Regions from separate parts of the Homo sapiens genome. Here all the other regions are linked to region 3. Evidence: fine-mapped expression QTL. A gene starts in region 3. Each other region holds a variant in brackets. All regions are shown on one strand. Distances are between the middles of the regions. Region 1 overlaps RAPGEF4 (Rap guanine nucleotide exchange factor 4). Region 2 overlaps RAPGEF4 (Rap guanine nucleotide exchange factor 4). Region 3 holds the start of RAPGEF4 (Rap guanine nucleotide exchange factor 4).

Evidence for each region. PIP is the estimated chance that this variant, and not a neighbour inherited with it, causes the effect.
Region 1: its variant is the best candidate, but not a certain one, in a credible set for the expression of RAPGEF4 in ovary (GTEx, PIP 0.68).
Region 2: its variant is the best candidate, but not a certain one, in a credible set for the expression of RAPGEF4 in stomach (GTEx, PIP 0.63).

What each region holds. Positions count from the first base shown.
Region 1 is chr2:173,001,533-173,004,294 of GRCh38, forward strand. The region is part of intron 17 of RAPGEF4 (Rap guanine nucleotide exchange factor 4); the gene reads left to right. Among named protein-coding and RNA genes, the nearest start is that of MAP3K20, 73 kb to the right of the region's middle. The variant C/T (reference allele first, on the strand shown) is at 1,548.
Region 2 is chr2:173,006,866-173,009,627 of GRCh38, forward strand. All of the region lies in intron 17 of RAPGEF4 (Rap guanine nucleotide exchange factor 4), which reads left to right. Among named protein-coding and RNA genes, the nearest start is that of MAP3K20, 68 kb to the right of the region's middle. The variant G/GC (reference allele first, on the strand shown) is at 1,204.
Region 3 is chr2:172,734,576-172,737,337 of GRCh38, forward strand. It overlaps RAPGEF4 (Rap guanine nucleotide exchange factor 4), which reads left to right and starts at 1,270. Exons shown (of 31, transcript NM_007023.4): 1 at 1,270-1,473. The coding sequence starts at 1,409. RAPGEF4-AS1 (RAPGEF4 antisense RNA 1) reads right to left here and starts at 1,631. Exons shown (of 4, transcript NR_026995.1): 1 at 1,551-1,631; 2 at 720-886.

The sequences.
Region 1 (2,762 bases), 270 kb after region 3:
CTGGCAGAGGTCTGCTGTGCCATGTTTAAGGATTTCCTCCTTGTTACCTGTATTGGGCCATTCTTTCATTGCTATAAAGAAATACCCGAGGCTGGGTAATTTATAAGAAAAGAGGTTTAATTGACTGGCAGTTCTGCTAGGAAGTATCGTGCCAGCCTCTGTTTCTGGGGAGGACTTGGGGAAGTTACAATTGTGGCTGAAGGTGAAGGGGGAGCAGGAGCGAGGTGGGGGAGGTGGCAAACACTTTTAAACGACCAGATCTCATGAGAATTCACTATCTCAAGGACAGCACCAAGACACGAGGGGTCCACCCCCATGAACCAAACACCTCCCACCAGGCCCACCTCCAGCATTGAGGATTACATTTCAACATGAGATATGGGCAGGGACAAACATCCAAACTGTACCATTATCTGTGCAGAGAAGTGTGAACCAGCTTACCACAGGAAGGTGATGCTGGCAAAAAAAAAAAAAAAAAAAAAATCCATTGCCTGGGAGGCAGGCTAGAAAGGGTTATGGAGAAGAACCTGGGAGTATTAGCAGGAATGGTTCCCTAACCTCAGAGACAGACTGTTCCCTGGCAGGGTGGACTGTGGTCGGCTTGTGTTCCTCCTCCGAGCTATGGTATTAAATTGCTAAGCTGCTGAGATAAATACAAGTTATCACTGTAGGATAACTTTCTTTTCCCATTCATCCTCGTCTATCCTCTCCTCTAGATACCAAAATTTCTTTCTTTGTTACTACTTTTTATTATCATCTTACTGACTTAAAGACCCAAAATTTGAAACTCCAGTGACAATTCCTCTCTATAGCTTGAAGGCCAAGTTTATTTGGGACAGCTTTTCAACAGTGTTTGGAATGGCCCAGTTGATGCTGGTATGTAGCACAGAGCAAACATTCTCAGAAAATGGGAGTGGAATAAAAGAAGTGGGTATTATTAATAAGCTTCACACTCAATTTTGGGAGCATGTGAAAGTATATTCTAAGATTTTGTTTTATTTTTAGAACAACAAAAATTTAGACCCCAAATCACTTTGGCCCTTTTGAGCAGTTAAATATATTGAAGGAGAATGACTCTTTTATTCTTTCTTTTTTTTTTTTTTTAGGAATTCAGTGAATGTTGGCATGTTTTCCTCATTCAAGATTATAATTACCCTACCTGATTCTCATTTTCTTGTTCACTCATAATTCTCTTTGAAGTAAACAATGTATGAGGACAGGAGATTTGAGTTGAAGGTGCAACTCAGAGGCAGCTTCAAGAGGGAGATTTGTGTGTTTATTTGCCTGGAAACTGTTTTACCGAGTAATGATGGCTTAATGAGACTTACATACATTATATATTTTTTCTGGCACATACTCAATTTTTCTCGAGTAAAATGAACAAATTCAGGATGTCTGTGCTCTTTTAACTCCATACGCACTAATCATTATAGACCTTTGAGATTTGCTGGAAGGAAAAATAAAATCCACCATTGAGTTTAGACTTGGTTTTTTTTAGCAGATAAGCCTAAGGCAAACAAAACTCAAGGGCGAGTCAGCGAGTTCAG[C/T]GGGCCAAGGCCCGGCATCTTTACAAGTCCAAGCCCCAAACACTGCGCTTGTCTTTTTTTTTTTCAGATTCTAACTTCTTCGTGTATTAGCTTGTTCCCCTTCAAGGGTTGACTGAGAACATTCAAATCACTAACTTCTCTTTTTAAAATAGCGCTCTGGAGAGAAGGTCCGTTCCATGCCCAGGTAGGGAGGAGGGGGAAAAATGATACTGGCGGGCAGGGAGAGGGGAAGGCAAGAAAGCAAACAGGCGTGGAAGAGCTGTGACGTCAAATCTGACTTCTTTTGTCTGTAGACGGGGGAATCCAGGGTGACTGGGTATAATCTGTATTATCTAGGTCCCTCAGACCACCTGGCTCATATCTGGCCCTGTGGGAACTTAGATTCTCTTCACTGTTCTATTTTGAATCAGCTCTGTCTGTGTCAGGTGCATGCTAAGAGCATTGACCAATATTATACCACTCTATCCTGGCAGGATTCTATTGGGTTAGTATTAGCTTTGTGTTACAAATCAGGGTCCTGAAGTTACCCCCAGCCCCCACAAAAAAACAAAAAAGGAGTGGCTTGCCCAGGGCAAATAGCTGAGTTCTCCAGATGATTCCAAACCTGGAGTTTGCCTTTTTTTTTTCTCTCTCTCTCTTCACAACTTATTTATTTGAAAGCTTGTTTAAATTTTAATGATTCTGTAACCTTTAATTAGAGTTTAAGAACATTTCAAGACACTATATTGCATCATAAACTGCTTAACAGAACACCTGCAAGCAACAGGGATGTATAATGCAAACTTGAACAAGTGGTTTAACCCCTATGTTTTTAACGTGGGATATTAGGGATAGTAAAATACTTAACTATGTTTCATTAGTCAGTTGCTTTAGTGGAGTATTTTTAAAGTGCTTAACATCTGGAACTTTTCATAGCAGCCCTATGAAGAAGTCAGTATTTTTACTGCTATTTTTCTAAATCAATAAACTAGAATAATGAAAACTTATGAATTGCTCAGAGAAAGGTAATTACTAGCAGAGAAAAGATTTGAGCCCTGAGCTACTGACACGTATTTCTGTTCTTAATCCACATTGTGTGTCTCTTCCAGTTTTGCTTTTACCATGGAGAAAGATAGTAGAACTCTGCTGAACATTAATATATCAGGCCTTTTATGTGCTAATGAGAGAGACTCTCTATTCATTAGACACAGTTTGGACATGATTTGACCCGATGAA
Region 2 (2,762 bases), 270 kb after region 3:
TCTGATTCTGAAAAGTGTTTGATCCATATGTCACCGTCAGAGGAATTTGCTTCTGCAGATATGCAATTTGAGTTTGTTTCCATGAGGAAGACTTTGTTTGGTGATGTTATGAACATGATATGCTTTTTGGGAAAAAAATGACTGTCATCAGATATGCTAAAAAATATTTCATATACATGTTCTCGGCCTCATATCAACACTATGTACTCTTTTAGTCTTGTTTTTCACAATAGGGAAAGTGAGCTTGAGCAGCTAGGTAATTGGCCCCTAGCTACCTAGCTAGTAAATGTTAGAACAAGATTTGAACCCAAGCAGTGTATTGCATTAGGGCACGTCCTAACTGCTGTGCTATGAGTACAAGCCCTTGGCTTGAGACTTAAAAGGAGAATAGCCAGGAACTAGAGACTTCTAAAAACACAGAGGATTCTGAAAATCAGTGGGAAAAATATTCTGAGCAAGAAAATGGGAGATATGTAAAGAAATTGATGGTACAGAAGGCGCTCCTATGAGCTCAAAGTTAGTAGGTACACACAAACAAAGGAGCAGCCTGTGTGGATAGGAGTAACATCACAGACTTAAACCCAGAAATGCCAGGTCTTATGAAAAATTCCACAACAGTCCATTGAAAATATTTTAAATGACTTCCAGAGAAGAATCAGTAATAACATTGGTGGCTAAGATTTACTGAATACTTAATATGTTTCAGATACATGTTTTACCTGTATTATCTCATTTCATCCTTGACAGCAATCTTATGAAGTTTACTGATGAGGAAACCAAGGCTCTAAATGGTCAATTAACTTACCAAAGATCATACAGTTTTTATATAAGTAGGGAAGCCAGGATGGGACCTAAGTAGTGTAATTTCAGAACTTGCATTTTATGAACATGCCATATGAAGGAAGAAATAGACGCAGTGGTCAGAATGTCAGGCTGCTCCACAAAGACAAGAAGCCCAGATTATAGTAAAAAAAAGCAAAAGCTCTGAAGTAAAAAGACCTGTGTTTAAGACCTGTGTCCTATAAGCTATATTACTCAGCAATTATGCTTAACCTCTCCAAGCCCCTTCTGTAAAATAGGGGTAATTATATGATACGGTCTGGCTCTATGTCCCCACCCAAATCTCATCTCGAATTGTAATCTGAATTTTAATCCCCATGTGTTGGGGGCAGAACTGTGTGGGAGGTGATTAGATCGGGTGTG[G/GC]CCCCCCCATGCTGTTCTCGTGATAGTGAGTGAGTTCTCATGAGATCTGATGGTTTTATAAGGGGCATTTCCCACCTTCACTTGGCACTTCTCCTTCTTGGTGCCATGTGAAGGACATGATGGTTCCCCTTCCACCATGATTGTAAGTTTCCTGAGGCCTCCCCAGCCCTGTGGAACTCTTTCCTTTATAAATTATCCTAGAGTTGAGCAGTTCTTTACAGCAGTGTGAGAATGGACTAATACATTATACTTGCCCTACCCACTTTACCAGGTTGTTGTGAAAATCAAATGAGGTTATGTGTGTGAACATACGTTATAAACCTTAAAGTCCCATATATATGTTGCTGTTATTATTATACCATCAGGAGAGGAATATGGCATGTTATAAAGAATATACAAAAGCTTTGTCTTGTCAGTGGGCAGATGACCCCCAAAGTTTGTTTTCAGCTGCAAGCAGAGATCTTGTATGCAAAGCAGGGTTTTAAAAAACAACAACATTGAAGAGTATCAGTTTGAATGTTGTTAAGTGTTTTATAAATAGCTGCATAATTAGCATGTACTTACTGCAAAAAGTATACATAATATTTTATTCCCTGTTGTAGGCTGTAATGAATCTGCTGCCTCTACATCCTGGGAGGTTTTCACTTACTTTCCCCATGATAATTTTAATACATGGAACCATTATTAGCTGAATTAAGAATAAGTAAATGAGCAGTTAAAAAAAAGTACAGAAAAATTACAGGTGCCTGTGGTGAGTAAGATAATAACTAGGTAAAAATATATGAAATAATTACAGTGTTTGAACGGCAGAGCCGGCATGAGGAAAATGACTCAATGGAATATTAAGCCTGATGTTGGCAGGGTAGAAAAACTGTAGCCTACACTGTGGCCTTCACCTCTTCTGATTCTCAGCCCTAAAGCCTCACTGCAAACAGATCCAATCTGCTCTCAGTCACATGTACACAATGCTGAAGGAGGTGGTTCAGTTCCGAGAAGATTTAGTCACTCTGAAAGTTTGTCATCCTGTAGATTAAATACCCAATAACTGAAAGATTCTATTTAAAAGATGTACCAGATGTTTTACAATTAAATTCTTTATGAATTTATTTAGAATGTACCTCTGATCTGTATTTGACATCTTGACAAGATGGGATTCCGGGTAACTTAATTAAAGGCTCTTAAATAGCTGTGATATTTTTAAAGGTTTTTTGTTTTTTTAGAAAAGTGCATTAGATACAGCATTCCAAACAGTGCAAATAAATTATCTGTAATCAGTTGATTAAAAAATATTGAAGGCTTTTGTGTGCCCAGTCTTTAGCTAGAAAGTGCAGGAATTAACAGTGAGTTTACGACCTCGTTCCTTCTGTTAAGGATTTTGATTTAATGCTTCCAGATGGTGAGAAATACTTTATTACAGTTTAAGTATTCCTAATCTGAAAATCCAAAATCCAAAATGCTCCAAAATTCGAAGTTTTTTTAGCTCTCATACCAGTAGGTATAATGCAAACATTCCAAAATCCAAAAAAAAAATCTGAAATCCAAAACCACTTCTGGTCCCA
Region 3 (2,762 bases):
TGCTGTGGGAACACTGTGGCAGGTCTGAAACTAGATCCTGGCTATCCAGCAGAGGGAAATGGCACATATTTGGAGGCTTTTATATCATGGTAATAATTGTTTTATTAGGATCAAAGCATCCCAGAAAGCACTTGCTCTTTCCTTCTCTCCAGTCCCCCTGACTCTCCCCTGAGCAGGGTTGGATAGGAGGTTTGGTGGGGGGAGGAGGCAGGGAACAGTAGAAGAAAGCAATGCTATGTCCCTTTCCCCCATTGTCTGGCCCCAAATGTAGTGCCATAAATATCAAAACAGTGCTTGGTAATAGTCCAAAACATTTAACTTGTCCGCAAATTCCTAAACAACCATTGGCGTGTAATTTGGTTCTTGGCAGAGTGTAACTGAATAACTTGTAGACATGACATTTGTGTGAACATCTACAAGAGACAGGCCGTTATCACCACCCATTCAACACTCCAGCCAGAGGAAGAACAGCAAGGGGGCCAGCCATACAAGTTCACCTGCGCGTCCGGGGTCTCGGTTCTGCTGTGGCCCGGCTACTCCCCATTCTCAACTGTGTTTTCTTCACCATGCAGGTGATGGAAGCCCAGGCAGGCCCAGGGTTCAAGGCCAGTGACTTCAGCCTGTCACCCCCTCAGACCACATCGGGCCCACCGGCCTCCTCCCTCCCTGCCCCTCAGCCCTGCCCGCACTGCCCCCCATTGCGCCCAGCCCTTCCTCACCCCGCAGGAGAAGCTGGCCTCTCATTCCTCACTGAGAGACTCGACGGGCGTCCCCACGCCAAGCCTTCCTCGCCCTCCCCTCCAGCCTTTTCTGAAGGGGAGACAGCAAAGGTGAGCAAGCAACCGCCGGCAAGTTTCGACAGCTGCTGAGGAAGACTCATGGGTTTCTAAGGAAACAGAGAGGCAGCAGCCATTTTAGTAGCATTTGCTGTATGAAAAATATATAGACACTGGCAGCCCTCTCCCCACTCTGCCTTGGCGCCTGCCCTCCCGCCCCGCCTCAGAGGCCCCGGGGTGAGGGTGGGGCCCCAGTCTCCGAGGGACGCAGCGGACACCTGTCGCAGGTGGCCGGCCACCGGGGTCGCCACCCCCAGTGTCCCCCAGCAGCGGGACCGCGGGGTCCCCACCCCGGGGCGGAATCCCCACCCACGGGCGCCGCAGTGCAGCGGCGGGCGGGCGGGCGACTCGGCCCTCCCCGCACCCGCGTCCCGCCCCCCGGGTCCCCTCCCTCTCCCCACCGCCCCAGGCCGCGGGAGCCCGCGGGGAGGGCGGGCCTGTCGCAGCCGCGCTGGTCGCCAGGCGTCCGGGAGGAGCGGGGTCCGCGCGGCGGACGAGGCGGGGGCGGAGGCGCAGGCAGAGCGAGCGCGGGAGGTCGCCGCAGCCAGGGACACCGCGCGCCGCCGCTCAACATGGTCGCTGCGCACGCTGCCCATTCTTCCTCCTCTGCCGAGTGGATCGCCTGCCTGGATAAAAGGTAGCTCGCCGGGGGCCGCAGCCGGGGGCCGAGCTCTGCGGTGCTGCCCGGGCCCTGAGACCGCCGCAGCTCCGCACCTGGGCGCAGCGCGGCCGGGCTGCGGGTGGCCGGGGTCCCCGAGCGGGGGAAGGGGTTGAGGTCCTCGTCCGGGAGACAGGAGGACAAGGATCCCCGCCTCTCGTGGGGTGCCAGCGGCATGAGATTATTACACGTGGTGGAGAAAATGCAGCGCAGTAAGGGGAGAGAGCACCCACCTCTCCAACCCCCTGCCCTGCCGCGACTCCAGGCTCCGCTCCTGGGTGGGGGTTTATTTTCTCTTGGCATCACGGGACAGAAGAATCGATGCATACCCTTTCCGGCTATTCAGACCTTGCGGGGTATGAAGTTTTAAAGAGGGGTGGGGGCACCGGCAGGTGCAGAGTAACATTCTTTTTTTGTTCTTGAAAGCAAAGTGTGAGGGACCCGGTGGAGCTGTCGAATCCCTTGCTGAAATTCACAGCTCTCTGCCCCCGCAGTCGCTCGCTCAAGGTCTGTGTTAGAGAAGGTCATTTGGGAGGCTGCTTTCGTCTTAATACCTGCTTCTCGGGAAAAGATCTTTACGCTAAAAATAATTAAAACCATAAAGCATGTAACTCCCGACGACAGCTCTCTCTAAGGAGGATGTGTGTGTTAACAGTGGATTGCAGTTGTTTCCAGGCTGTGACAGCATAATTTTCTGTTTGTCCAGATTGCAGGTTTAAACGTTACACAGTATGTTAGCAATTATAGCTTATTACCCTGATTAAAAGGTGATGCATCTGAACTTTTAAGAACTGAGCAAGAAATCTTGCAGAGTGAACTGCCTCTGAATTTCGGAGTTTGATGCAGAAGGGCAATGATGCACGTCTTGCAGCTATCTGCATGACATCTCTATTTGCATTTGTGTGAAATATTTTGTGCTCTGCCATATTGAAAAATTTTCAATTAACAGATTCGTAACCAGATCAAACTTGAAAATCTTAAGTGTGACGTGCTTTGCATACTCTATTATAGGCCTTTGTTGAAAAATATTAAGTAATTTGAGAAAAGCTAAATGTAGCTCATTTGAAAAGCTTAATATATCTGAGAAATAATCTTGACTTTCAATTACCACTCAGTAGCAAGATTTTTTGGCAGGTAGTGCCCTATTTATGTCTAAAATGATATGTACTAATATTAAAAGAGTTGCATGCAATAAATAGTAAGAGAATTAAAGTAATAGTTAAATCACACAGGATTATGTAGAAGAACTAAGAGTATTTAAAGTATAG